Linked DNA regions of Homo sapiens: region 1 is linked to region 2. Evidence: fine-mapped expression QTL. A gene starts in region 2. The other region holds a variant in brackets. All regions are shown on one strand. Distances are from middle to middle. Region 1 has its middle 77 kb from the start of GOLIM4. Region 2 holds the start of GOLIM4 (golgi integral membrane protein 4).

Evidence for each region. PIP is the estimated chance that this variant, and not a neighbour inherited with it, causes the effect. A credible set is the group of variants that fine-mapping cannot tell apart.
Region 1: its variant is the best candidate, but not a certain one, in a credible set for the expression of GOLIM4 in visceral fat (GTEx, PIP 0.78).

What each region holds. Positions count from the first base shown.
Region 1 is chr3:168,171,576-168,174,486 of GRCh38, forward strand. No RefSeq gene overlaps it. Among named protein-coding and RNA genes, the nearest start is that of GOLIM4, 77 kb to the left of the region's middle. The variant A/C (reference allele first, on the strand shown) is at 1,355.
Region 2 is chr3:168,094,858-168,097,768 of GRCh38, forward strand. GOLIM4 (golgi integral membrane protein 4) reads right to left here and starts at 1,067. Exons shown (of 16, transcript NM_014498.5): 1 at 242-1,067. The coding sequence starts at 428. RefSeq lists silencers at 843-892, 1,183-1,422 and enhancers at 1,094-1,595, 1,793-1,842.

The DNA.
Region 1 (2,911 bases), 77 kb after region 2:
ATGCACCACCATGCCCAGCTAATTTTGTATTTTTAATAGAGACAGGGTTTCTCCATATTGGTCAGGCCGATCTCGAACTCCTGACCTCAGGTGATCTGCCTGCCTCAGCCTCCCAAAGTGCTGGGATTACAGGCATGAGCCACTGCGCCCGGCCTCTTTGTGAACCTTTTAATTACTAATTCATTTCTTTAGTTATAGTACAAATCAAACTATTTCATCTTGGTTGAAGTTTGGCAGCTAGTAACTTTTGAGAAATTGGTCCATTTCTTCTAAATTTTAAAATTTATCAGTGTAAAGTTGTGTGTAGTTTTCCCTTATTGTGTTTTTTAATGGCTTCAGGACCTGTAGTGATATATCTTGTTTCATGCCTCATAGTAGTGATTTGTGTTTTCTCTTTTCATTATTGCTAGTCTCGCTAGAGTTTTATCAATTTTATTGGCTTGTGCTTTACTGAATTTTTTTTCTATTGGTTTTCTATTGCCAATTTTCTTGATTTCTGATCATATCTTTAATATTCCCATCATTTTATCTTTGGGTTTAGTTTGCTTTTGTTTTTCTAATTTCTTTTTTTAATTTTTAATTTTTGTGAGTTTATAGTAGGTGTATAATCTTATGAGGTACATGAGATGTTTTGATACAGACATGCAATTCCTAATAATCACATCATGAAGAATAGGGTATCCATCTCCTCAAGCATTTATCTTTTGGATTACAAACAATCTAATTATACTATTTAGTTATTTTAAACTATATAATTAAATTATTATTGAATATAGTCACCTTGTTGTGCTATCAAATAGTAGGTCTTATTCTTTTTAACTATTTTTTTTAAACCATGTTTTTCTAATTTCTTGAAGTAGAGACTTAGATTAATGATTTGAGACCTTTCCCTATTTCCAGTGTAAATATTTGGGGGAATAAATTTTTCTTTCAACCCTGCATTAACTACATTCTACATATTTTGGTATGTTACATTTTAATTCAATTCTCTCTCTCTCTCTCTTTTTCTCTTTTAGCAGGCAGTCACACTGCTTAGGTTCAGTGTGAAGTTTGTGGCCTACTTTTGTGGTCTGTATTTCCAATGAAAGTTTAATTTTTAGAGCCTTTGTGATGTTATTTTGTTCTTGGTTTGCCTGGGGTTGCCACTGGTCTCTGCTGGTGCTGATGGGGTGTAAAAGTTTTCTCATGCTGGGAAGCCTGATGTCTCTTGGTGCAGAAGGGGAGTCTCAGGTCTTTGAGGACAAAGAGGATTTGTTGTGACAGAGGTCTTATTGCTGATGCCACTGCCACTCTGGTATATCTAGTTGCAGGAGGGAAGTCTTGGGTTTGTAAGGGACAGAGAGTGCTTCCCTGG[A/C]TGATTGTTTTGAACTGGGCCCTGGGACCCATCCCTTTGCCAGTGGTGCCATGCTTATCTAGTGTCCTCAGAGGACTACTCTTTTATTGTAGAGATAGAATGGTCCTACCTGGACTACCTTCTGTCGCTAGGTTGAGGTTTGGGAAACACCAGGTCTGGGTTGCCTTCTTCTGTGGGGTGAAGGGAGGTAACATGCCTTTCCCTTGTGTCATTATTCTGGTCCTAGGATCTCACACTAGTTCCTCTTTTGACCTTTTAGATTTTTTCTTTGGTGATCTCTTGTCTCTTGTGGTATTGCAAGGATTATGATTATATTTAGCAGAGGGGAGCAGAGAGAAAGAAGTCTATGCCATTTCGTCTGGATAAGAATTTTTCTTGTATTTTTTATAAAGCAAAAGTTTTAAATTTTTATTAAGTTTAAAATATCAATTTTTTTTGTCTTTTTCGTTTGTGTTTATATTAGTTCATTCTTACACTACTACAAATAAGTACCTGAGACTGGGGTAATTTATAAAGAAAAGAGGTTAATTGGCTCATGGTTCTGCAAGCTCTACAGGAAGCATGGTAGCTTCTGCTTCTGGGGACGCCTCAGGAAATTTACAATCATGGTGGAAGGTGAAGGACAAGCAGGCTCATATTACATGGTGGGAGCAAGAGGAAGACAGAGCAGGGAGGTGCCACACACTTTTAAACAACCAAATCTCGTGAGAACTCTATCACAAGAACAGCACCAAACGGATGGTGCTAACCCATTCATGAAAGATCCACTCTCATGATCCAGTCACCTCCCACTAAGCCCCAGCTCTAGCACTGGAGATTACACGTGGACATGAGGTTTGGGTGGGGACAGAGATCCAAACCATATTCTACCCTGGCCTTTCCCAAATCTCATGGCCTTCTCACATTTCAAAATACAATCCTGCCTTCCCAACAATCCCACAAAGTCTTAACTCATTCCATCATTAACTCGAAAGTCTGTGGTCCAAATTCTCATGTGAGACAGGACTAGTTCCTTCTGCCTATGAGCCTGTAAAATCAAAAACAAGTTAGCTACTTCCAAGGCACAATGGAGGTATAGGCATTGGGTAAATGCTGCCATTCCAAAAGGGAGAAATTGGCCAAAAGGGAGAGGCTACAGTCTCCGTGCAAGTCCAAAACTCAGAAGAGCAGTCATTAAATCTTAAGGCTCCAAAATAATCTCCTTTGACTCCATGTCTCACATCTAGGGCATACTGGTGCAAGGGGTGAACCCTGAAAGCCTTGAACAGCTCCTCCCCTGTGGCTTGACAGTGTTCAGCCCCCATGGCTGCTCTCACAGACTAGTGTTGAGTGTCTGTAGGTTTTCCAGACACATGGTGCAAGCTGTTAGTGGATCTACAATCCTGAGGTCTGGAGGACAGTGGCTGTCTTCTCACAGCTCCAGCAGGCAGTGCCCCAGTGGGGACCCTGTATGAGGGCTCCAACCCCACATTTCCCCTCTGCACTGCTTTAGTATATGTCCTCCATGAGGGCTCTGTCCCTGCAGCAGCTTCTGTCTGGATATCCAAGATTTTCCAT
Region 2 (2,911 bases):
GGACGATGGGCTGGTGCTACGAAGTTCTAAACCTAACCGCTGGGAGGAAGAAGCGGGAGGATGAGAATGTCATCTCCCCTGACACTCTGGTGCCGGCAGTCCTGAAACGCTCACCTCTGACGTCCCTGAAGGTCAGAGGTGGCAACCACAGTGCCAATAGCTCACCAAAGCCACTTTTCCTGCCCGGGTGGAGGCGCGGGGCAAAGTTGGCCACCGGCTGCGCGCGTCCCGTTAGCCGTACCTTGTAACTGGGCGGAGAGGGACTCCTGGTGCTGCTGGTACTTGAGCGCCACCGCCTCGGCTTTCCGCAGCTGCGTCTGCAGCTCGTAGTAGAGCATCGCGCCGTAGAGAAAGCCGAACACGACGGTCAGCAGCAGCAGCGTCTGGAAAATCCGCTTCTGCTTTCGGGAGCACATCCCGTTTCCCATAGTCCCGCCTGGACCCAAAGCCGCGGCCGCCCCCGCCGTCTCCTCCCCTTGGTCCGAGCGAGCGTCTCAGCAGCGGCCGCCGCAGTAGGTGGCCAGACGCAGCATGAGGAGGAGATGCCAGACACAAAAGCCGGCCCGGAGGGGAAGTGGCGCCCGCTCAGCCCCCGCGCGGCGCGGGGCGCGCAGCCATCGACGCCGCCCGGGCAGCTGCAGCCAAACTTCTGCGAGGCTCGTTCTCCGCGAATGCCCGGGGCCGGGAGGAGGCCCTCCGCATACTTCAGAGCCGGCTGCCCTCGCGCCTGTCCCCAGATGCCTCCTGCCTTTTTTCCTTCTTCCCACTTTTTGGCCCCGCTGCCCCCGGGCAGTTCTTGGAGTCCCGCCCTGGCCACTCCCCGCCCTATCGCGGCGGCTCCCACTGCACGACTTTGTTGCCACCTAAGGGAGGGGGTGCGCGCCCAACAAAGGGACCAGGACTCCGGGCCGCGCCCCCGTGCGGCCTGCCCAATGGGTGGAAGGGTGGGGGCCAGCTGTCTCGGCTGGTTTTGGGGACGGCACAGCGGTGTCACTGACGGGTCGGCTGGTGCCTCTGCCGCCCCGCCACCTCCTGCCCAACTTACGTGTCACCCACGGCCCGGCTATTCTGGCCAACGGGATTCCGGGAGGAAGTCCCACTCGGCCTCCTTGCTCATTGGGCCCGTCCGAGCAGACGCTCCCTCCCTTCGGGGAGGCAGTGCCGGGCTCGATTGGATGCCGGCTTTGTCCGTCCGACCCCAGGGCCGCACCTTCCCTCCCAGTGCCGGGGCCGGCTAGGGGCTCTGTGGGCAGCGCGGCCGCCTGGCGCCGGGGTGCGCCCACGTGGAGTCGGAGAGGGTGGGAAGAGGCAGGCGGAAGGGCGAAGGGCGGGGAGCTTTGGGTGGGCGGGGGACTTGTCCGGGCCTGAGTCTGGGTGAGGTTCGGTGAACACGTGTGTGTGTGTGTGTGTGTGTGTGTGTGTGTTCCAGTTCTCGTTCGGAACGCACGTGGAGAGCGGAGTAAAATGTGTGTATGAACGAAAGAATGGATGGCAGTAACTGTGTGCACTCTGCTGAGTACACTTTCTTTCCCTGTCCAATAAACTGATGCGGCAGACACATGGGATAGCTACATAGCACAATCCCGGTAGTCAAACCAGAGATGCCATGTCGACTGCCTTACCCCATCCAGTGTACTAGCCTAGATGTGTGTGTGCCCACAGATGGCCCGGCAGGAGTCGGGAGACTGGAAGCACGCTAGACTTAATGTTCAATTGTCCACGTGGGCTGGGGAAATCGGCTTGCCATTGGCAGAGAGGAAAGAAATGGTCTCACATTTCTCCTCTAGCTGCAAATAGAATAATTTAAAAACAAATCGTACAGACTGAAATGAGTATCCATTCATTTTGTCATATGTATTTGTTTTATTGGTGGCAAAACACATCAGTTACATTTCTAAATTACATTTTAAAGGGCAACAAAGGTTCCCTATGTAAAAACTAGTACAGCACAGGAAAGGTAGTAACCACAAACCTCTTCGAAGAAATGTATACTGCATTTATTTTTTCTGTGTACTTGAGGGGAATAATTAAGGTTATGCACAAATGATAATTTTTGTTTCTGCTGTTGACCTGAATTCTAAGAAAAGTAAATTTTATCTGTCTGTATAGTGTGGTGTAATTTATGATACACTGCATAATTTTTATATTCTAACTGGACTTTAGTCGTTACCATTGCTAATGGGCCTGAGTGCTCAAAATGGGGGTAAATCTCTTTAGCTAAATGCAACAGAAAGACAGTTCCTGGTGCAAAAGTTTTTTTAGGTGGACTCTGAAATTATAGGTTGCTAAAGCCCTAAAATAAACTGAATTTATAACGATGCTACCCTGTGGCATTTATACCACTGTAAAAATAAAGTGTGTCTTGCATGTGCTTTTCCTTAATAAATAATAACTTGCGTTAAATTATTCAAAATGCTTTCGTGTGCAGATACACTGTCTCACTGATCACAGCCAGGGTGTTAGACTTTCATGTTGGTAAAGAAGCCAAAGTTTATCAAAGTGACTATGACAGCTCTAGGACCTTTTAGGTCTTGCATAAAGTTAGTTACTCAGCAAGATTAGAATCCAGATCCAAACCCTGCTCTATGTCTTTTTCTTCAATAGAAACAATGTTCTCATTCTATTAAACAAGTTACAGTAAGAAATTATATCTCCATTAACATGAGAATCTGATTGTAAAAGAAAACAGTCTAAAGGAGTTTGGGAGTTTTGTTGTGTAAATACTACATAATCTTCCTTATTATTAAATCTACCACTTTAAATTCCTCTTTTTTAGTTTGACTCTCAGAAATTAACATTGGATAATTACTGGAATCTCTTTAAAATTCCTCATAACTAAACATTCCTTACTGTTGTCAGAGTACTTTGTTAAACAAACTCTTCCTCCAAAAACACTATCCAAATTTAGGCT